2 separate regions of the Homo sapiens genome follow, and region 2 is linked to region 1. The links come from fine-mapping of genetic effects on plasma protein levels. Region 1 holds a variant in brackets. A gene starts in the other region. All regions are shown on their reverse strands. Region 1 holds the start of OR51E2 (olfactory receptor family 51 subfamily E member 2). Region 2 holds the start of INSL5 (insulin like 5).

What was found. A credible set is the group of variants that fine-mapping cannot tell apart. PIP is the posterior inclusion probability: the model's chance that the variant is causal. The UK Biobank Pharma Proteomics Project read protein levels with antibody pairs (Olink). The fine-mapping took linkage between variants from a reference panel, not from the people measured, so its PIPs are less certain.
Region 2: INSL5 starts here. The variant in region 1 is the best candidate, but not a certain one, in a credible set for the plasma level of the INSL5 protein (UK Biobank, PIP 0.58).

Annotation. Positions count from the first base shown.
Region 1 is chr11:4,694,408-4,706,198 of GRCh38, reverse strand. It overlaps OR51E2 (olfactory receptor family 51 subfamily E member 2), which reads left to right and starts at 8,346. Exons shown (of 2, transcript NM_030774.4): 1 at 8,346-8,546. OR51C1 (olfactory receptor family 51 subfamily C member 1) reads left to right here and starts at 8,346. Exons shown (of 2, transcript NM_001396051.1): 1 at 8,346-8,546. The coding sequence starts at 8,538. It overlaps MMP26 (matrix metallopeptidase 26), which reads right to left and starts at 1,415. Exons shown (of 8, transcript NM_021801.5): 1 at 1,154-1,415. The variant A/G (reference allele first, on the strand shown) is at 5,495.
Region 2 is chr1:66,796,585-66,808,375 of GRCh38, reverse strand. INSL5 (insulin like 5) reads left to right here and starts at 7,100. Exons shown (of 2, transcript NM_005478.6): 1 at 7,100-7,329; 2 at 10,131-10,636. The coding sequence starts at 7,155. The coding sequence ends at 10,363.

The sequences.
Region 1 (11,791 bases):
TATATTTCTCTCTAATAAAATTAGTGGTAATGTATTTAATGCCTTCTACGTGCCAAACAATTTACTTCACTGAATCTGAGTCCCCCTTTCCACTGTACATAGCTCATAGAATCTTTCTTCAACTCCTGCAATCAAAGGGAAACGTAATAGGATTCTTGTAACAGAGGGAACTCTATTAGCAAACATGGGTCCAAGAACAGCTCCCCCCACCACCACCACCACCACCCGCCCCCACCATCCCTGCTCCTGGAGCTGGAGTGCAATGGCACAATCACCTACTCCTCCCAGGTTCAAGCAATTCCCTTGCCTCAGCCTCCCGAGTAGCTAGGACTACAGGTACATGCCACCACACCCAGCTAATTTTTTGTATTTTAGTAGAGATGGGGTTTCACCATGTTGGCCAGGATGGTCTCGATCTCCTGACCTCGTGATCTGCCCACTTCAGCCTCCCAAAGTGCTGGGATTACAGGCGTGAGCCACTGCTCCCGGCCAATAATAGCTTTTTAAAAAAAATTCTGTGATTCTTAAACCAGTCTTGAGTTGTCCTGCGCTAAAACTAATGAGCAAATATTAAACTCTTCTTAAACAGTTCTCTTTAAGTGTCTCTTTCTCCCCCACTGAGAATTCTTCCATGACAGAGCCTATAACTTAAACATCCCTATTACCAGACTACCAGGAACATCTAAATAGACAGCCCTCACAACAAAGCTTCACATTCATTACTATCACAACACCATTATTGGGTATTAATAACTCCCCTTTATGGGTGAGAAAGCAGGGTAAGATTAGATAATCGAGTCTCAGAGGAAACATACGACGTTCTCAAATTCACCCAACAAGCCAATGGCAGATTCAGGAATTGAGCTCTGTTCTTACTCCAAACGCCATGCTCTCGCAAACTCCTTATTTAAATTTTTTTTTCTTTTTTTACTGTGGCATGAACAAACACATGCTGATGACTGTAGTCTATATTTGGAATAACTATTTTGAACGCTACAACGATATTTTTGAGTTGACATAACGTATGAAAATACACTACTGAGTTCATGCTCACATTTACTCTGAATACTTCCGCGTTTGTTTCATATACTATCTGAAGGTTATACAGTACCTAATTTATTTATAACTGTCTTCAATGCACTACAACACTGACCTTGTGCACAGAATTCTTGGGTCTGGAAGGTGAGGTTATTTGATCCTGCCCCCTGCTATTTGAAGGATCATCCCACACAGCAGAGAATCTATTAATGCAAAGCAAGTGAGAGAGAGTTATCTCAACCTCACTAACTTACTTGCAGAAAGGTTCTGTACTACTATAGCTGCGGAATCAGCCCCTGATCAGCCCTGCCCCTGGACAAAGAGGTCCTCTTCTGCCAGGAGAAAACATAGGGAAAAAATTCAGGAATAGGAGAACTACCAGATTTGAGAAAAACAGCCTTTATAAGGAGCCTAGAAGTCACCTGGTGAGAGTCATTTACCCAGCAGAAAAGCAAATTCCTAGGGGAGAACTCCCTACAGCTGTGTCCTGTTAACCCTTTGTGCTCCAAATAACAAATTGTAAAAGGCAACATATTTTCAGTCTATCTTCACTCTTTCTTCCCCAAAAGATAATTCTATAGATGAACTGCAATTTCAATTCTCATTCAAGAGCAATTTGAGCCCTAAACAGCTGTAGGACAACTTTGCATAGAGCCAGAGTAAGGAAGAAGTGTTGTTGTTAACGGATCATTAACAGCTGAGTTTGCTCAGCTGCCATTTGCCGGTTTCACAGCAATCACGAGACACGGAACCCAAATAGGAAAGGGGTTGCTGAGTTACTACATTCACTGAAGGTAGTGCAGTGGTTTTCTGATTGAGGGCCCAGGCCCTCCCCTGAATTTCCTGGGAGCTGTTGCTAACCTGTGCATAGTCACAGAAAATGACAACTTAAGAGGAAGTGACTAAAGGAAGACTACAAAACTTTATGAGTCCCTTGTGTGTCCCTTGCTAGCTTACAGAGATACTAGTCTGCTCTGTCCTAAAACTGCTACCAGCATGTTTACCACTGTGGTGGAGAATTAACCATGTTTGACAGACAGCTTCTATTTAAGCTGTGGACACTCATAAATGGCTTTCAGCTTTGTCATTAATACAGCGTTTCACAATTAATGGTGAGCTTGGAAGCTTGGTAAATTTCAAGGACAACTATTTAAACATGTTTCTTGGCATAAGAGGCTGTATCAAGAGGCCATTACCTTACAAAGTCCTGCTGTATGGAAGAAGGGGACGAGTTAACTATTCCCGTTAGAGTTGCTACAGAGCAGAAAATTTAATTATCCTGTTTAATTTTTTTCTTCTTCTCATGTCACAAGATTCTAGATCCCTAGGAAAATCTGGAAAGATGCATTTTTTCCCAGAAGTTCATAAAGAACCTGAGAAAATATGCTCTCTTTTTAGGTATTTTCTGGACTAATAGAAGCATAATCTTCCCCCATAAATACCTCAATGGGTTAGGGGGGAAATCTTAACAGTCCCAGATAAATGTGCCACATAATGTATGAGACTCCGTGGGAAAAAATGCACAATTTAAATAGAAGCTTTCAAGATACAGAAGCAAAAACAGACGTCCAGGCTGTTACAGGGAAATAAATGTGAAAATCTTACTATCCATGCTAGGAATTCCAGTCTGAGGGGCACTGGTTCATGCTCACAGACACAAGTGCAGGCTGATCTTCTACACACAGCTGCAGAAAATGGAACACAGAAGAGCTTCGGACTCTTTTTTAGTGCACACTCCAGACATTTAAACCATTCACCAGCCAAGGCTTAACAATCAGTGGATACAAGAAGGGCATAATGATCAATGCTCATTTTGACTGGTTGTCTATTCTAATTGTACTGTCCCAGGACTTAAGTATGTTACACACTTGCCTACATCTACCTGTCCATTAAGAGTCAACATAGCATTGGTTCAACTGAAAGTATTTGGAACCAGACAACCTTGGTCCAACCAGACAACCAGACAACCTTGGTCCAAAGCTCAGCTCTGTCACCAATCGTGTGACCTTAGACTACATCACCTCTGTTTTTTGCTTTTAATGTGGAGAAAATCGTTATACTGCTTTATAAGTCTATGTTGTAAAATAAGATAACCCAGTATTGATCCATAAAAAGGTCTTAGCACATTTGCACTCACTCAAAATGTGTTATTAATCATTGTAATAATTTATTTTTATTATTTATCATGATTACTATTGTTCTCATTAATATAGCAATTTTATTAAATTATCATTTAGTGCCTAGTATGTGTCAGATACTATGTTCCAATGTTGAGATGAGAAGGTGTAGTATCTACTCTCAAGGAACTCATATATCAGACAGATAGATAGACAACCATTATAACACAAATCTGGTCAGGACATTATCCTGCTTTCAATTCTTTGGCTTCCCAGGTCCTCAGAAATCTGGCCTTGCGACTGCTTTAGGTGGAGAAACATTTATTTCTACTCTCTCCCCTTCAGTCATACAGAGCTCATTTTCAGTTTCCTAAACATGGCATGGTTTGGCTCAGGTCTGAGCCTTCTCTCATTCTATTCTCTGAGGCAGTATTATGATGTTTACTGATTCCTAAACTCTGTTTCAAATATAATTCAAAACAGTTTTATTTTTTATTTATATTAAAATTAAAATAACTTTTTATCCTACATTTTCTGATTGCAGATTGTGGATAAATTAATGGAAGCTTAATTATGTGGGGGTTTTTTATCCTTTTTTAATTTTTCTTTTTAGTTTCCCTACTTTGCAGTGCCCTAATTTGGTCCTCAGTCCGCCAAGCAGATGAAACACCACAGCAGCTGACCATGCCTGGAACATTTCCTTAACCTTCTGTCATCTCCTCACCCTACTCTACTCTCCTGCCCTCATTACTAGCTCCCCTGTCAAAACCCTTTTCACTCACTCGGATCTCATATTATCAATTACATTTGGTTAGCCTCCCTTGATCACACAGGCTAACTTGTCCCAGCACCTAGGTGATCTATACCAGCACTTCACAAATATGAATGGCACATTAATGCGCTAGGTATCTTGCAAAAGCGCAGGTTCTAATTCAGAAGATCTAATTTTCTTTTCATTTCCAACAAGTTTCCAGGCGATGCTAACATTATTGGTCCTTCAATAGCAAAGATCTCTGTGAATACCACTTGTAGAGTAATTATAATACAGTATTTTAATTTCCCATTTACTTATTTGTATCCCCCATTAGACTTCGAACTGTGTAATATTTGGGTTGATATCTATCGTGTTCACTGTTATACCCTCAGGATCTTGTTCAATACCAGATATATGTAGAGTATCTATACAATATTTCTCTTAATAAATCAATTAAGAACTTTAATGAAAGCATGTGCAACAAGATATAGTGGGAGCAGAGAAGAATGGAATAAATAGGAATATTAGGAATAGCTAGAAGTTCACAGGGAGAGGTAAGGAGGAGTGACATTTCTATATACACCAAAATTGAATGGTCAGTGTTAGCCATATCAACGGGGTAGGAAAACTGCTAAATCCAACATGGCTGGATCCAGGAAAAGAGGTGAGTGAGGCTTTCATCAGACCATGGAGGGCTAGTAGGCCATATGGAGTTCTAATAATTTTTCTGAACAGTAGTATAAACAAAATGGTTTTTGACTTAGTGTCTTAATCTATTTCCTCTTGCTATAACAGAATACCAAATACTAGGTAATTTGTGAAGGAAAGAAGTATATTTAGCTCACAGTTCTGGAGGCTAGGAAATTCAAAAGCATGGTGCCAGCCTCTGGAGAGAGGTTTTGTGCTGCCATTACATGGTGGAGGGCATCACATGGCAAAAGGGCAAGGGCATTTGTGTCAGCCCAGATCTCTTTTTCTTCTTATAAATCCACCAGTCCCATCATGATGACCTTATCTGATCCAACTTATCTCCCAAAGTCTTCATATCTAATCAAGATATGACTTTGGGAATTAAATTTCCAACATGGGAGACATATTCAAACAGTAACACACAGCAACCCGTTTTCGTTGCTGTTGTTATTGTTTGTTCTCTTTTAAGTTTATTTCTACAATTTCAATGCATTAACCCTGGATTACCTGTTTTGCCTCTGGCCTCTTGCTCCTGTATCAAACCCTGTTTCTTTTATATCTTAAACTGTTTGCTCCTTGTGCTAGTCTTAGCCCTGAAACTTGTTTTTCTATTTCCTGATCAAGCATGACCATCCACTTGAGCTGGTATATGCACAAATTTTAAAGGTTGCATAACATCCCAGGACTCGATATAAATGCTTTATATATTCTGTATCATTGAGAATTTTTATCTATATTTTTTACCACTGTAAATAATGGGGCAATAAATTTTCCTGTACATAAAATATGGCCTGCATCTCTGATATCTTCCTTTCAATAAATTCTTAGAAATGGAATATTATGGACATTTTAAGACAACAATATACTGGAAAATATGCTTCCAGAAAGTTCATGC[A/G]AACATTGTAAAACAATGCTTAGTCCACTGTAACACAGCAACACAACACTATGTATTATGTGTTTTAAAAAACATTTGCTGATTTGATAGCCAAGAATATTTTACTGTTTACCGTAGTAAATGTTGACAGTCAATAAATAAGACTTACTTCAAGTTCCTAGTGCAGAGTTTTCCTATGTCCAATTTGGTACTTCCTGTTTGGATTACCAAGTTTCAGAAACATTAATATGAAGTCAAATGACATCACAGACTATGATATGTTTCCTGGACTCAATGGAGTTAATATTAATGTATTAATAAGATGTGTTGCTGTATGATTTCATGGAGGAACATTGAACTCAAATTTTCAGAAAGTTTAGTTAAATTACCAGCTACTGTTCTGCTAGGCTGGCATGAGAATAGGGCAGTGAGAAGAGCCATATTTTGACGTAGTGTGCCAGTGTGTGTATTGGTGCTTTAACCAGTACACACACTAGTTTCATTTTCATGTACTAAGCTCTGGCACAGAATTTACATGGTACCACTATAGTAACTTTATTTTTCTTATAAGAGTAACATTCTTTCAACCATAAGAATAAAAATATGTGACTATTCCCAAATAGTTTCTGAGACTAATGGGAAAAGAGTCACAGCCCTACAATTTGCCCAACTTGGTAGAGAAAGTGTTTTCAAAGGTCTCAAGAAGTTTCCTGTGCGGAAACACAACAATAAAATACCTTTATGTGCAAGGAATAAGCATGCACAAGTGACAACCTGTTAACATTCAGTTTGGCACATCAGCATGCATGCAGGCTTTTGGGTGTAGATGACTCAAATTGAAAGTAGTGGTGAATGGATAGTCATGTGAAGACTGTTTAGAAAATGAGTTTTGAAAACTGAGAGGGTGTCAGATAGCCGAGGCTTTGAATACTACTTGTGCCATTTATAACTGAGAAACTTAGGTAAGTTACTTACACTCTAATTTTTGGTTTAAACATGGTTTAAGACATAAATCAAACTAATAATGGATTCTTCTACTGAATTTATTATTGTAGAGTTGTGTAAGTCAAAAGTTGACATGGATCTCACTGAGCTAAAATCAAGGAATCACCAGGCTGCATTTCTTTATGGAGGGGCTAGGGAAAAATCAATTATCTTCTTTTCTCCTTCTGGAGGCTTTCCACATTCCTTGGCTTGTAGCCTCCTTCTGCCATCTTCAAAGCCAGCAACAGTGGATCAAATCCTTCTCATGCTGCCATCTCTCTGGTTCTCTACTTTTAAAGACCCGTGTGACTATATTGGATCCACCCAGCTAATCCATCTAATCTTGCCATCTCAAGTTATTTAACTTTAATCACATCTGCAAAGTCCCTTTGCAATGTAAGGTGACATATTCACAGGTTCCAGGCATTAAGACATAGGTATCTTTAGGGGCCATTATCCTGTCTACCACAAACACTTGGCCTAGTATCATGGATGTAGAATGCATAATAAAATATTATTGTTCTTGTTATTTATTGTTTTTATTACATTATGAAGAAGAAAATATCTCAGGCCATGACATTTTCAGTAGTGAAACAGATTTGATAGTGGAGAGGAGATAATATCGGAAGCAGGGAGAATGGTTAGGAAACTACTGAAGTTACCCAAGTGAGAGATAATTGTGACTTAAATAAAGGTGACATTTCTGGAGATGATAAACAGTGATCAATTTCTGATTGTATTTTTCAAAGAGATTGACATAATTTACCAATGGATTAAATGCAGGGTGTAAGAGACAGAAACTGAGAATGAATCAAAGACCCATATGCCCAAGTGTGGTCCAAATTGGTGGGAATATCTAAGGATCTAAAGAGGCCATAAGGAGAAAAGATGGACAACTTATAGCAATCTATGCATTCTATTTATTAAAGACTAATGAGAGTGATAGTAAACTGACAGAAGGTGACATCATTGGCCAAGTCAATCACCCACCTACCTGCAATTTTTCTTGGTATAATACAAGATTTTCAAAATTTGACTATAAGTAGAGAGAACCCCAAATTATTGTGACTAATTCTCTTCAACCTGGTAGGTTGGGACTTCAAAATACGAAATAGGTCAAATTATAAAAAAGTAAATGAAACCGTATTTTATACACAAGTAAGTTGTGAACCAAGATTTTTACCTACTGTATTCACCAAGCATTTGGTTCATGCCTCTAGGATAACCTTATCATTGGTTAACATGTAATTATTGGTTAACCTGTCTATCTTCTACACTAAAATCCTAAACAGTAAGAATTATGGTGTATTCTTAAAAAAAAAAACTCTATCACTGAGTATAATGTTTAGAATATGGGACATTCTTATGAAATATTTACTGGATATATGTATGGATGAGTAAATGAATTATTTTTTATCTGTAAGAGAAAGACTGCTGCTGCAAAGAACCACAGGTGGGCTAATGAAACCATACTGCTGTGAATAATCATAGATACTGAGGAGTTAAGGGGTGGAGTTGGACTCTCACTCATAATGGGAGATGTCATTTAGCAATTTGCTACAATATTTCGTTTTTTAAAATCTCCTTCAGAGTGACTGCTAGTGATTATGAGGTTCCTTTTAAGGGTAATAAAAAATGTTCTAAAATTGAATTGTGATGATGGTTCTTGCACAGTTCTGTGACTTTACTAAAAAAAATTGAATCATACACTATAAATGGGTGAATTTTATAGTATGTGAATGATATAACAATAAAGCTGTTAAATAAAAAAGCTTTTGAGTGAAATGACACATGAAAAAAAGGTTACATCAGCCCATAAAGCACATAGCCACCGTAAGTAATTGCATAATGGAACAGATATAAAAGGACTGTATGAGGCAAAAGAAGTCTTCTGGGAATCTCCACACCCTGAAGACACAGTGAGTTAGCACCACCACCAGGAATTGGCCTTTCAGCTCTGTGCCTGTCTCCAGTCAGGCTGGAATAAGTCTCCTCATATTTGCAAGCTCGGCCCTCCCCTGGAATCTAAAGCCTCCTCAGCCTTCTGAGTCAGCCTGAAAGGAACAGGCCGAACTGCTGTATGGGCTCTGTAAGTAAAACTGTTTTGTTCAATGAAAATGCTTGACTCTAGATGAATTGGACTTTCTCACCCACAGGGAGTAATTTCCTCACAATGTGCAGAATTAGATTAGATGTTGGTATGGTGGGCTGAGGAGGACGGTAGAATTTCAGAATTATTTATTCCCAGGAAATACGTAGAGAATGGGTATTTCGTTCTGCCTGATATAGGTTAGATAACTTGTTTTTAGTCAAATGGTTTAATCAGTGTGCTGATATATTTATCACAGTCAGTGAATCTCATTTCTATGCCCAATAACTATTACTAAAAATGAAAAGTTACCAATTTCGAACGCATTGCCTGCCAGCTACTGGTATTAGACACAGCGCATATCCTGTCTTATAGATGAGGAAACTGGGTCACAGAAAGTTTATATTACTTGTAGATTTCAGTAAAACAATTGTTTTTGAGAGCACGAGCTTTGGAATTAAAAAGACCTGAGTTAAAAATTCAGCTCTGACTTTCACCAGTTGTATGTGATTTCAAATATGTTTCAGACTTCTGATACTCAGTGTCTTTACCAGAAAAATGAATTTAAAGTGAATCTAATAATACTTGTCACATGATGACATAGTAAGAATTAAAATAATGCTTATAAAGCACTGAGGACAATAATGTTCACAGAACACGTGTCCAGTAAATGGTAGCTATTTCTATGAGTAATATTTTTATTAATGGTGTAGATGGTCTCAAAACTAGTTAGTGTTTGAGCAAGAATCTGAACCCAGGTCAGTCACACATGATAGCCATACCATTGACAATAGCATGGAGAATACTGATGACACTATAAGGTCTAGTTCAGCAGATTAAGACAGCCACAAGCTATAGCTTATAATAGTGCAATGAAAGAGGAGCATCATTGTAATCCGAGTGGGCAGAAAAATTAGTTGAGAGAATATAGCTTATTTCACAAGAGAGAAAATGAAAGTATATATGGATTGGAGAGGATGGGTCGGAAAGATTCTAGAGTGAAGGCAGCACAAAAGAGAAGCTTGGGGGAAATTTAGTGCCTCCTTCTAAGGATATTCATTAGTCCCCCTCTTGTCTTGAATATAAACACTTAAGATTTTTTCAATGTAAGAAAAATGCAATGAAATAATAGCTGCAAATACCCACTACTAACAATTGCTTGGCCTTCTTATATAGACCTCCCGAGGTTCTCATCTTTTACATTTCAGGAGTAGAATCAGTTAAAAACTAATCTTTATATGTAAGGGATGAGAGAGAGAAAGAGGAGGGTATGTGTGTGCACACATGTGTGTGTGTGTGGTGGGTAGTAATTTTAATTCAATGATTTACTAGAGTTCGATGTCGTTTGCTGATAAATGAAGCAGGAGGAAGAGCCAGGTTTGGAGGGGACGAGAGAATGAGTTCCATTTGTCTCATATAGAAGTTGAAGTAACTGAGTGATGATGGGTAGAGATGTCCCTCAGGGGTAGCCACAGTATTTTATTTACTTTTTATTCACCACATGCAGCAAGGAGCTTTGTTCTCCAAAATGCTGTCAATTATTTTTCTAAATTACAGGTTTGATTGCTTCACTGTATTTTCATGTCTCATTACTACCTTTACGCTTAAAACCAGAAACTTTGCCACAGCGTTAAAGATTCTGCTAACTTTTAAAATACAGAACTCTGGAGATGCCATAATTAGATTGCAGATTTATGAGTCTTCTGGATATAAGTGCTATTTAAAGCCATGAGAATAACCAAGATATCTCAAGGAGAGCATATGAAAAGCAAGAAAAGAAGAGGTACTTCTTGGGAGAAAAGCAGACTCCTCTAGAATCCCACAATTTATAAGGCAGAGAACAAAACCATTGTTTAACAAACAGGAAAAAAAAAAACCTCACAGAATAACCATCACTGAAGCTAATGAAGGAGAAAGTTTCAAGGAGGAGGAGGTAAACATTGCTGAAAGTTGAGATGAGGGAGAGAAAAACAAATCTGAGATTAAACTTTTGGACTTGGCATGTAGAAAATCACGGGTGACATCATTTGGAGGATTTTCAGAGTCATTAGGGAAAGAATTCAGATTGTTACTGAAGGTGAAGGAATAATAAACAAAAGCAGACTGTTCTCCAAAGGAATTTTTATCCTTATAAAAGATACAGCAGGAAATTGAGAGAGAAACAGGGCTTATGTCTTGTATCCCTCACTATCAAAGCACAAGGCTAATTATGAAAACTATTCAATATATCCTGGTTGAAATGAATTGTTTGGAAATATCTATACAAAACTGTGGGAAGCTTTTATTGTTGAGTTAGAGTAAAACTTGAGTATTGCAGACTTCAAAAAAGCAACCAATGGCACTAAACAAGATACTAAAGAGGGAAAGGAATTTTGTTGGCATTAAATGAGAAGAGATGGAAAATGATTTATTTATTAAAAGCAAAGCTCCTTGCTTCCAGTGGTCAATAAAAGGTGAATAAAATGTTAGAAATGTCTGGCTCTTGATGCTCTGCAAAAATTTAAGTTCATTACACTGTCCATGGAATTCAAGATTTTCATGATTTGACCTCTGGTGCTTTCTCTAGCTTCATTTCCCACAGCACCTAGCCTCACATTTAAGACTTCGATATACCCCTTCTCTTGTAGTTATCCAACAAACTGGCTTATGTTATTCTTTCATTCATGTCTCTCCTCATTTTATCAACGGCACTGCAAAAGCACACTTCCCCTGTTTTTCATCCTTATAAACTCACATTTACCCATCAAAACTTCACACAGTTATAAAGCATACATTCTGTTAACATTCTTGGAACTAGTTCTTCTTGACACACACAGACACATTCATGTATGCACACACTCCAAATCTGCCACTCCACACTATTATCTCTTCTGCCTTATCAATTAGATACATCCTATCCTTATACACTCTACAACTAGTAGCATTTATCTGTTTGTTTCTGTTACTGCTGATAGACGCTGTCTGGCATGTAGTAGATATTTAAAATTAGTCATTTTTTATTTTCAGTAAGAGTCCCTAGACTCTTGACACAGCAAGCTCAGCTCCCTGCATATGTGTGTGTGTGTGTGTGTGTGTGTATATATATATGTATGTGTGTGTGTATATATATATACGTATATATGTGTGTGTGTATATATATATATGTGTGTGTATATATATATATACACGTATATATATGTATAGTTTAGTTCAGTTTGAACTGAACTAAGTGTTTCTGGTTGATAGGAGCTAAAGTGGAGTTATTG
Region 2 (11,791 bases), not on the chromosome of region 1:
GTAAAAAAGTTTAATCTATAAAATCATGCAAAAACTTTTCTAGATAATGTTATTTCAGTATCCCTTCCACACACATTCTTCATAAGTTAACCAGAGTTAAAAAGTCAAGGGAAAGGAGTTTCAGATGGGGAAAAAGAGAATATGGAACTTCAATATCTGTAAGGCATTTGATATAACTGGACCATTTAGAGTTCGAGGATATCTAAAACCTGAACAAGTAGAGAGAGGCCAAATCATGAAATGTCTTGCAGGCCATATTAGAGAAATTTGGAAATTTTCTTCAGGGAAACTGTTGGGGGGTTTTAGAGATGGGTGATAATCATGAGTTTCAGAAAGATCATTCTGGCAGCAGTATGGAAAATGGATTGATGACAGGGCCAACTGAGAGGCCATTGCAGCAATGCCAATGAAACCTGAGGTCATGGTAGAGGGGATAGAGAGCAGTGGGTGGATCATAGAGAAATTTAGAAGGTAGAACCAAAGAGACTTGGTGATTTAGTGGATGTTTGTGTATGGAAAAGGTTTAGTCAATGGAGTGTGAGAGAAAATGAGGAGTTGTGAATGACTTCTAGGAAAAGCTGGAAGAATCGTCGCATCTTAATGAAGACTCTGTCTAGAAGCATTAAAAATAAGTATTAGCCAACGATGAGCAGCTACTATCTGTGTCAGAAAATAACAAAAATAAATTAGTATTTGCTAATGAATTTATATATAGTGATATCATAATCATAATTATCATCAAATAATTATATGTGATATGCTTTATAATTTATCAGAGCTATAATTAACATTACCGCAATTGATCCTGTGATATTTTTCAATGTAACAAATCAGAAAACCAAATTACAGGTTAAATACATCCTCAAGGTCTCTTAGCTGGGAACTAGAGTAGCAATCCTAAAAGTTTAACATTCTAATACCAAGGTTCTATTTGGTGGCATTCCCACCATTATAATTTCCATCAATGATCAGTCTATTGAAAGTTTCCTTGTGCTAGAGACTCTGATCAGCACTCTTTGGATCATTTAATCCTTACAATTAGCCTAATAAAGTTTGTATTATTATCTCTATTTTACAAATGAAGAAACTGAGATTCAGAGATTTTAAGTATGTCTTAAAATCTAAAGTATTAAGGTCACATAAATATTAAATGGAAGAACTGATATCTGATTTCCAAAATCCAATGCCACAAACAGTATATACAACTCATGCCAACCTATTCCAAACACCATCTGTTAAGTATACTGTCGTCATAGTTCCTTTATAAATGGTAAATAAGTGAGTGATATATTTACTGAATTCATTGTTTGGTTGTTAATTTGGGTTTTGGTACACATTAATGGTAGGCCTTCATATAATCAATCATATTGAAAATGTGGTAATTTATTCCAGTTGTTAAGGCCAAATAACTTATTTTGCTTTGATCTAGAAACTTGAATCATTATAAACGTTCTCTCCATCTGTAACATGTAAATAACTGTAAGATAATTATAATAGTCAGGATAAGCCAGGTTATGTTGTTATAGCGAGCAATCTCCAAATCTCAGTGACTTCAAATGATAAAGGTTTCTTTTTTTTTCTTTTTTTTATTATTATTATTATACTTTAAGTTTTAGGGTACATGTGCACATTGTGCAGGTTAGTTACATATGTATACATGTGCCATGCTGGTGCGCTGCACCCACCAACTCGTCATCTAGCATTAGGTATATCTCCCAATGCTATCCCTCCCCCCTCCCCCCACCCCACAACAGTCCCCAGAGTGTGATGTTCCCCTTCCTGTGTCCATGTGTTCTCATTGTTCAGTTCCCACCTACGAGTGACAATATGCGGTGTTTGGTTTTTTGTTCTTGCGATAGTTTACTGAGAATGATGATTTCCAATTTCATCCATGTCCCTACAAAGGACATGAACTCATCATTTTTTATGGCTGCATAGTATTCCATGGTGTATATGTGCCACATTTTCTTAATCCAGTCTATCATTGTTGGACATTTGGGTTGGTTCCAAGTCTTTGCTATTGTGAATAATGCTGCAGTAAACATACGTGTGCATGTGTCTTTATAGCAGCATGACTTATAGTCCTTTGGGTATATACCCAGTAATGGGATGGCTGGGTCAAATGGTATTTCTAGTTCTAGATCCCTGAGGAATTGCCACACTGACTTCTACAATGGTTGAACTAGTTTACAGTCCCACCAACAGTGTAAAAGTGTTCCTATTTCTCCACATCCTCTCCAGCACCTGTTGTTTCCTGACTTTTTAATGATTGCCATTCTAACTGGTGTGAGATGGTATCTCATTGTGATTTTGATTTGCATTTCTCTGATGGCCAGTGATGATGAGCATTTTTTCATGTGTTTTTTGGCTGCATAAATGTCTTCTTTTGAGAAGTGTCTGTTCATGTCCTTCACCCACTTTTTGATGGGGTTGTTTGTTTTTTTTCTTGTAAATTTGTTTGAGTTCATTGTAGATTCCGGATATTAGCCCTTTGTCAGATGAGTAGGTTGTGAAAATTTTCTCCCATTTTGTAGGTTGCCTGTTCACTCTGATGGTAGTTTCTTTTGCTGTGCAGAAGCTCTTTAGTTTAATTAGATCCCATTTGTCAATTTTGTCTTTAGTTGCCATTGCTTTTGGTGTTTTAGACATGAAGTCCTTGCCCATGCCTATGTCCTGAATGGTAATGCCTAGGTTTTCTTCTAGGGTTTTTATGGTTTTAGGTCTAACGTTTAAGTCTTTAATCCATCTTGAATTGATTTTTGTATAAGGTGTAAGGAAGGGATCCAGTTTCAGCTTTCTACATATGGCTAGCCAGTTTTCCCAGCACCATTTATTAAATAGGGAATCCTTTCCCCATTGCTTGTTTTTCTCAGGTTTGTCAAAGATCAGATAGTTGTAGATATGCGGCATTATTTCTGAGGGCTGGTTTCTTTTCCATTCATATTACATATTCATTACAGATCAGTGGGCAGTTATGCTCCATATTGTTCTGACTCAGTGATTAGGTTCCCACATCAGGAATGTTGTTGGTAACCACAGCCAGGAAGAGGGAGAACTGGAGGATCATACACCGATCCTTAAATTTCAGGCAGAAGTGACATATGTCACATCCACTCACATTTTATTTGCCAAAATATGCCACATGGTGTTGCCCAATTTTAAAGAGCAGAGAAATACAACCCTACCATGTGTCAGGACAGAGGAGAACTAGAGATACGTCTACTCTAGAAATTCACAGCAATCCCAGATGTTAATCAATTTCACAATGGAGTTATTTCCAACATCAAATAAGTTGTGAAAACATTGAATTAAACAAAGTTAAAGAAATTTCATAACTATAAGTCTTCTCTGGGCTCTACTATATTAGTAGGCATTATTAATCTCAAAGAAAGAGACTACTATCATGGAATCCTTTTTAAAAAATATTCAAAGACCATCTGCAAAGACTCATGTTCTGAAGAAAACACTTTAAGAAACAGTACCATAAGACCTTTCTTTATTAGAACTTGTTTGTGGAAGGATGAAAGGAAAGAAGAAGGCAAGGAAAGGATGAAGGAAGGGAGGAAAGAAAAAGACGACAGCAGTGCAAATTTATGGATGGTTTTGAGATTAAGAGTTATACAGAAGAGTCATCCATAGTAGCTAGTCCCAACCAAAAATAATATTTTCTAATCCCTTGTTCATGACATTGTTAATTTATTATTTATTGAATTATATATTATTCTAGGTGCTGTACTTGTGTTAACTCATTTTGCTTCACAATAACATTATAAAACACAGATTATTATCTCCTCATAGATGGAGAAATTAAAACTCAGAGCGGAAAATTACATATTGTGTCTCCTATGTTGAAATCCTAACCCCCAAGGTGATGAAATTAGGAGATGGGGTCTTTGGGAGGTGAATAGGTCATGAAGGCAGGACCCTCATGAATGGGATTGATGACCTTAGAGACCCCAGAGAGCCAGCTTGCCCCATCTTCTGTGAAAGGACACAGAGAGAGGTCCTAGAATCCGGACCATGCTGTCACCTTCATCTTGGACTTCCCAGGCTCCAGAACCGTGAGAAATAAATTTCTGTTGTTATAAGCTACCCAGTCTCTGGTATTTTGTTAGAGCTATCCGAAGGAAACCTGAAATAAGACACATAATAATTGCCACATAGATAGTAAACTGAGTTACAGACCAGAATGAGGAAGAAAAATCACGTCCATCTCCAAATGAAAGGGATTAAGTGCTCCTGTGAGAGGTGCAAAAAAGAAACTGTGGTTACTCAAAAGATGGAAAGATTCCTTTTCAGTTGGTTAGCCTTTCATGGACCTTGAGGTATGTGAAAAAAGTGATGTTTGGGTACCTGAGTGGAAAGCATTAAATGTGATATTGTTTGGATTGTCTTCTGGAGGTAATGGTGAGCCACTGAAGGTTTGTGAGGTGGGAGTAACATAATCAGACAATTATAGCAAGACTGATAATTTCAAGTGCAGAGAAGACTTTTAACAATTAAATCCAACCCTCTCAATATACAAATGGGGAAAATAAGCCCCAAAATTTCAGGCTTCACATCTAGGGCTTTTATTATTGTCATGAGCTTTTTCATCTGGGTAGCTACTTGGCTGTCTAACTTGCCTCCATTAGGTCACAGAATGAGCTCAAGTATTGCCAGCCTTCCATCCCAAACTAAATGAGCCCTAATGAGGTATTAAGAGCTGGTAGAAGAGGGGACTACTTTGCACCTAGGGGCATCAAGTGTGGTGATAGCAGGATCATGCCAGAGTCCATCTGACATCCAAGGTAGGGATCGTCCCTTGGCTGAATATCCCTGGGGTTGTGCAGAAGCCCAATCCATAGCCACTGATGATAGATCTACTGCAGTGCTATGTTAAAACTGGCATTGTCAAGATATGCACTATAAATCTCCAAAGAAGGGAAGAAGTTTGGTAATACATGGCTCAATAGCTGTTATGTTGTGGATGTGCTAAGCATGGTAATACAGACGTCCCTCTGGAGTTGATGAAAGATGCTGATTTTGACCCATCCAAAGATGGAGTAGCTTTCTCTGATGACAGAACCATTTCTGCTTCTTTGGTCCCTTTCTTAGCAAATGACCGCCCTACCTCCCAGTTGAACAAGCCAGAAATCGAGGTATCATATTTGACATCTTTCTCTCCATTGCCCCTGATACCCAGTCAGTACCAAGCCCTTCTATATTTTGAATACACATGTGTCCTATCTCTCTTCCATGGCCTTAGTTTAGGCCACCATCATATCTAAATTATTGAAACAGCCTTTTTCTGTTTTTCCTTTCTCAAGTCTTGCCTTTCTTAATCCATTCTTCACACTACAGCCAAAGAAATGGAGAAAGCAAGACTCTTAGAAATAATTTTTATTTTTTACAGCAAAGAATGCTTTCAATTAGATAACAGATTATTTTGTTGTATTTTCCAGCTTCCCTACAGAAGAACAGTGATTTCACAAGAAGTACAAATGATATGATCATGGCCACAGACTTAGCAATTTTTTTCCAACCAGGAATCACAGACAAGGATTTCACAGAATCAACTGAACCATTATTTGTTCAACTTGCTAAAACCTGAGTCAACAGTTCTTTAAGATCCCAAACTCTGGGATTCTCAGTTTAGGTAAGACCTTTGCAAGAGCTAGTGCTTTCAGAGGTTTTACCAAAAGAGAAATTTCATTATTTAGCTATTTGGGATATGGACTTAGCTTTCTATTATCATAAATACGTGTGTTGAGAAAAGTGTACCTAGGTCATAGGTGAAGGATAACAAGATCCTAGTCAGATAAAATCTTCTGAATTCTGAAGTTATCTTTTCTAGTCTTCTATTCTGATGGTGAGAGGAGAAGCAGCTAATAATTAGTAGCTGTTTTTTTTTGTTTTTGTTTGTTTGTTTGTTTGTTTGTTTTTGTTTTGAGACAGAGTCTCGCTCTGTCGCCCAGGTTGGAGGGCAGTGGCGTGATCTCAGCTCACTGCAAGCTCCACCTCCCGGGTTCATGCCATTCTCCTGCCTCAGCCTCCTGAGTGTCTGGGACTACGGGTGCCCACCACCACGCCTGGCTAATGTTTTGTATTTTTAGTAGAGACAGGGTTTCACCGTGTTAGCCAGGATGATCTCGATCTCCTGACCTCGTGATCCACCTGCCTCGGCCTCCCAAAGTGCTGGGATTACAGGCGTGAGCCACTGCGCCTGGCCTATTAGCTGTTTATTGTACCAAGTGGGACGCATGTTATCACATTAGACCTATGAGGTAGTTACAATCATCAACACTATTTTACAAAGAAGGATGCCTTAAAAACTTGCTTAAGAGTCTAGATCTGGTAAGTAACAGCCAGGCAACAGCAACGGCCAGGATTCAAACTCAGGACATAAGAAATTGCCTACTTAAGTGTGATATCCCATTGTTCTGACATTCATATTGCTTTCAATATTCAAAAAAACCCCTGTGAGATGGGTCTTCCCATTCCAGAGATATGGTTATTGAGGTTCAAAAGGTTTTTTTGTTTACTTGTTTGTTTGTTTGTTTTTTAGAGACACGGTTTCACTGTCACCCAGGCTGGAGTACAGTGGCACTGTCATGGCTCATTGTAACCTTGAACTCCTGGGCTCAAGTATGCCATTGTGCCTGAGTAATTTTTAAATTTTTTGTAGAGATGGAGGTCTCACTATGTTGCCCAGGCTGGTCTTGAACTCCTTGCCTCAAGTGATCCATCTGTGTTGGCCTCCCAAAGTGCTGGGGTTACAGGTGTTAGCCACCAGGCTTTGCCTCAACTCAAAAAGTTTAAAACTTGCCTTATGTCACTCAGTAAGTAGCAAGGCTGAGAGTGAAACTCATTCTTGGCAACTTTCAAAGTCCGTGAGTTTTCCATAATGCCTTCCAAGAGGGCATCTGTTTTTATCATCTCACAGATGCGTTGATGGTATTAAGGAGAGACTGAATAGCTGGCAATACTCATAAAACCGCATTTTCAAAACTTTACTGTGTAACCCTATGTGCTTAGCAAATATTGTAAAAATGAGGTTCTGACCAATGAAATGTCAGGAAAGTTAGTATAAATTGGTCAAGAGAGTGACAGTCACTCCAGAATTTGATTTGACTATATTTACCATATCAGATTCACATTCAGTCCTCAGCAAAATGAAGGGCTCCATTTTCACTCTGTTTTTATTCTCTGTCCTATTTGCCATCTCAGAAGTGCGGAGCAAGGAGTCTGTGAGACTCTGTGGGCTAGAATACATACGGACAGTCATCTATATCTGTGCTAGCTCCAGGTGGAGAAGGCATCAGGAGGGGATCCCTCAAGCTCAGCAAGGTAACAGTAACTCATGTGTCTCCTCTATTTTCCTTTCACATGTCTCTTTTATTTTTTCAAGCTGTGTTTTAAACCATTATTTTATTAAGTGTTTCTCTAAGTACTGTTGAGGCATTTTTTATGTCAATTTAAGGGATTAATTATCAAAATATACTGAATTTGGCTTGGGAAAGTGATGAGCATGCTACCTTTCAAAAAATAACTACCTCATTTTTTAGTCCCCTGCTTGAAATCATTTAATCGCATGACTACTTCAATGGGCTCAGCATCTGTGGAAGGTACTTTGGAGGCTATGGCGAAGCATGTGATTTCAAGGAGCGTGTTGAAGTAGCAAGACTTTCACTCATGAATAATTGTACAATATAATAAGTTAGAATTCCGGCAGTTGTTAAATATGGATGCAAGGAAAGAAGCTGACCTTAATTGAGCACTTTTAAGTGCTGGGAAGTTACATGTGCAACATTTCATTCAGCTTTCTGATAAGGATCCTGGGAAGCAAGCAAAATTACCACCATTTATCATTTTACCAAGAAGAAAATTCTTCTCCCAGCTGGTGAAAATGTGGTTAGGTAGGAAACTGGGTCTATCTGGCTTCAAGAGCCAAGGTCTTTACTAATTCCATACTGAGTCTCGGGTGGGAAAGAGAATGTTACAAAATGTCACCTATTACAAAATGTCACCTATTTTGTAATAGGTGACAGCATCATGGAGGTGGTGGTTACTGACAGAGGCCCTGAAGGATTTGGGGATTATGGAAGGTGGTGGGGAAGCAGGGTGGGAATTCTAGTAGTAGGAATTGTCTGATCAGGATTTTGAAGGAAGAAATGAACCAAATGTCTTTCAGAAACGGTGAAGCGGCTGACTTCACTATATTTCTTTATTATTCAATTCAACTAACTTAAAAATTTGACTGAAATTCTTTCTGTTAATTCCATATTAAAGTATGAGGTAGAATTTATTTAAAATCCTATTTTTAGATTTTTATTTATTTATTTATTTATTTGATTGGAGACAGGGTCTTGCCCTCTCACCCAGGCTGGCACAATCATAGCTCACTGAAGCCTCAAACCCCTGCACTCAAGTGATCCTCACACCTCAGCCTCTTGAGTAGGTAGGACTACAGGTGTGTGCCACCACATCTGGCTAATTTTTAAATATTTTGTAGAGGTGGGGTCTTGCAATGTTGCCCAGGCTGGTCTCAAACTCCTGGCTTCAAGCAATCTTCCGTCTCGGCCTCCCAGAGCACTGGGATTACAGGCATAAGCCACTGGGCATGGCTGAAAATCCTATTTAAAAAATTATTTTTTTAATTGGTAAAAATTATATACATTTATTGTGTACAACATATTGTTTTGAAATAGGTATACATACAATATACATGTGGAATAGCTAAATCAAGCTAATTAACATATGCATTACCTCACATACTTATGTTTTTGTGATGAGGACACTTGAAATCTACTCTTTTAGCAATTTCAGGAATACAATGCATTTTTATTAACTATAGTCACCATGTTGTACAATAGACTTCTTGAAATTATTCCTTCTAATGGAAATTCTGTACTCTTGACCATCTCTTCCCCAACCATCCCCCTCACCCTCACCCTCTGATAACCATCGTTCTCCGCTATACATTTTTGAGTTTGACGTTTTTAGATTCCACATATCAGTGAGATCATGTGGTGTTTGTCTTTCTGTGCCTTGCTTAAGAGTGTATTTTAATAATTGGTTGTATTTGCTATGTTTTATACTAAAAAGTTAAAAAGGAAAAATGTGATTACATAATAAATGTTGCGACTATATGTATGATTGTTAAGGTTTCAGTTTAATTTAAAATGATGTTGGTAATAAAAACCTTTTAGAAAATGACCTAAACTGTTCATCTTTGGGTGGGCTAATGTGTTGAAAAAGCATGTATTTTCCATTTTCAGTACCACTTTAATATTGAAGTTCATATGACTAGTTGCTAACAAAAATTATATGGGTTTTTAATCTTAAGAGAGTAAGCATAATTTACCAGGATTTACAACAATCTCTGTAATAGCAAACCAAAATGCACTATAAAAATACATTTGGGATATCTCTGAAACACATAGGGGAGTGGAATGGATATCTATAAGGCTAGCTCTGTTGGACATCACTGAAATCATACTACTTATTATTCAATCTTTCTCAGATTTTCAGTGTTTTCCCACACATTATTTATCTGATCAATTACTGGTTTACCAACCAGCATCTGTTCACCTAGTTTTTCATGGTGCCTGCTGGTGTGCTAAGGCATTGATAAGTCAATTTGAACTAAATTAAAGTGAGAGAAGCTTATATATGAACTTTGGAAACAACACTTAGGCAAAAACTGTGAATTTCACTTTTTATTTTCAGATATAGAGGTTTAAATCTCCATTTCCTTCTTTACTGATCGAGATTGCAGGGCATACACAGGGTTTTTTTTTGTTTATGTGTTTTTTGTTTATAGCACATAACTAATATTGGAAGCTGCTGGTCATCCAGCAGAGGTAGCGAGTAAAAGAAGTCAAGTCCCGACTAGCTGAGCAACACTGACTGTCACTCCTCATCTTTGCACTCAAGTTTCTGCCTCTGTAAAATGAGGACAGTGGAGATGACTGTGCTCTCCCCAAAATGTCTAATCTCTCTGAAACCAGGCCAACATTTTAAAAAATTATGTGTATGATTCTATTTCATTTTAGGGATCCAGTTCATTTCCCCAGGAGTGGAATGTGGTTGCTGCCTTCTTTGTAGGAGCTGTCTAAGGATGTATTATTTTTTTCTCTTCCATACAGCTGAGACAGGAAACTCCTTCCAGCTCCCACATAAACGTGAGTTTTCTGAGGAAAATCCAGCGCAAAACCTTCCGAAGGTGGATGCCTCAGGGGAAGACCGTCTTTGGGGTGGACAGATGCCCACTGAAGAGCTTTGGAAGTCAAAGAAGCATTCAGTGATGTCAAGACAAGATTTACAAACTTTGTGTTGCACTGATGGCTGTTCCATGACTGATTTGAGTGCTCTTTGCTAAGACAAGAGCAAATACCCAATGGGTGGCAGAGCTTTATCACATGTTTAATTACAGTGTTTTACTGCCTGGTAGAACACTAATATTGTGTTATTAAAATGATGGCTTTTGGGTAGGCAAAACTTCTTTTCTAAAAGGTATAGCTGAGCGGTTGAAACCACAGTGATCTCTATTTTCTCCCTTTGCCAAGGTTAATGAACTGTTCTTTTCAAATTCTACTAATGCTTTGAAATTTCAAATGCTGCGCAAAATTGCAATAAAAATGCTATAAACCAAGCTCACTGTGCTGTTTTCTTTTTAAAAAATTGTAAACAACTTTTAAACAGTAAACCGAAAATGCTGGTGATGGGAAAATCTAAAAATATACATAAAAAATAAACATCAGCTATTATCTCATCATCCAGAAATAACTATTCATTCTTAATGTTTGGGTTACTGTGTATTGTTACTGAAAACTTAAACATTGATTCATAGTGTAAGCCAAAAAATATCTGAGACAGTTCTCAATCAATTTAGAAGTTTATGTTCCTATGGTTAGGGATGTGAACCCAGGAGACAGGTCTGTGTCTTTCTCCAAAGATGAGTTTGAGGGCTTCAATATTTAAAGGGGAAAGAGTGGATATTGGGGAAAGAGGAATAACTTTTTTTTTTGAGATGGAGTCTCGCTCTGTCGCCAGTCTGGAGTGCAGTGGTGCAATCTTGGCTCACTGCAACCTCCACCTCCCAGGTTCAAGTGATTCTCCTGCCCCAGCCTCTCGAGTAGTTGGGACCACCATCACACCCAGCTAATTTTTTCATTTTTAGTAGAGACGGGGTTTCACCATATTGGCCAGGGTGGTCTAGATCTCTTGACTTCGTGATCCAACTGCCTCTGACTCCAAAAGTGCTGGGATTACAGGTGTGAGTAACTGCAACCAGCCGAGGAATACTTTTTAAGAGGTGTGGGTAGGCGAGAAGCAAAGGGTTGCATTCTTTTGAGCCTTTGATCAACCATTCACATGTGATAGCGGAGTAGAGAAATAGTCACTTGTGCATTAATCTAGCTCAGTGAATCTGCATTTTTACATAAGATAAACATAGGAGAGAGGAAGCAATCAGACATGCATTTGTCTCAGGTGAGCAGAGGGATGATTTTGAGTTCTGTTCTTTGTCCCACACCTGTGAAGATAAGCTATCAATTTACATTGTCAGAATGAAATTTGACAGAACTATTTCAGGGTAAAGATTTTGGGGCCCACAAAAATTTCCTAGTGGGCAAATTGTGAGGGAGGTATGTAGCTTGTTAAATCTTTGTAGTTATCTTAGTTAGGAATAAAATGAGAGGCAGGTTTGCCTGATGCAGTTCCCAGCTTGACTTTTCCCTTTGGCTTAGTGATTTTTGAGTCCTGAGATTTATTTTCCTGTCACAATAGTCAAATATGAGAATTTAAA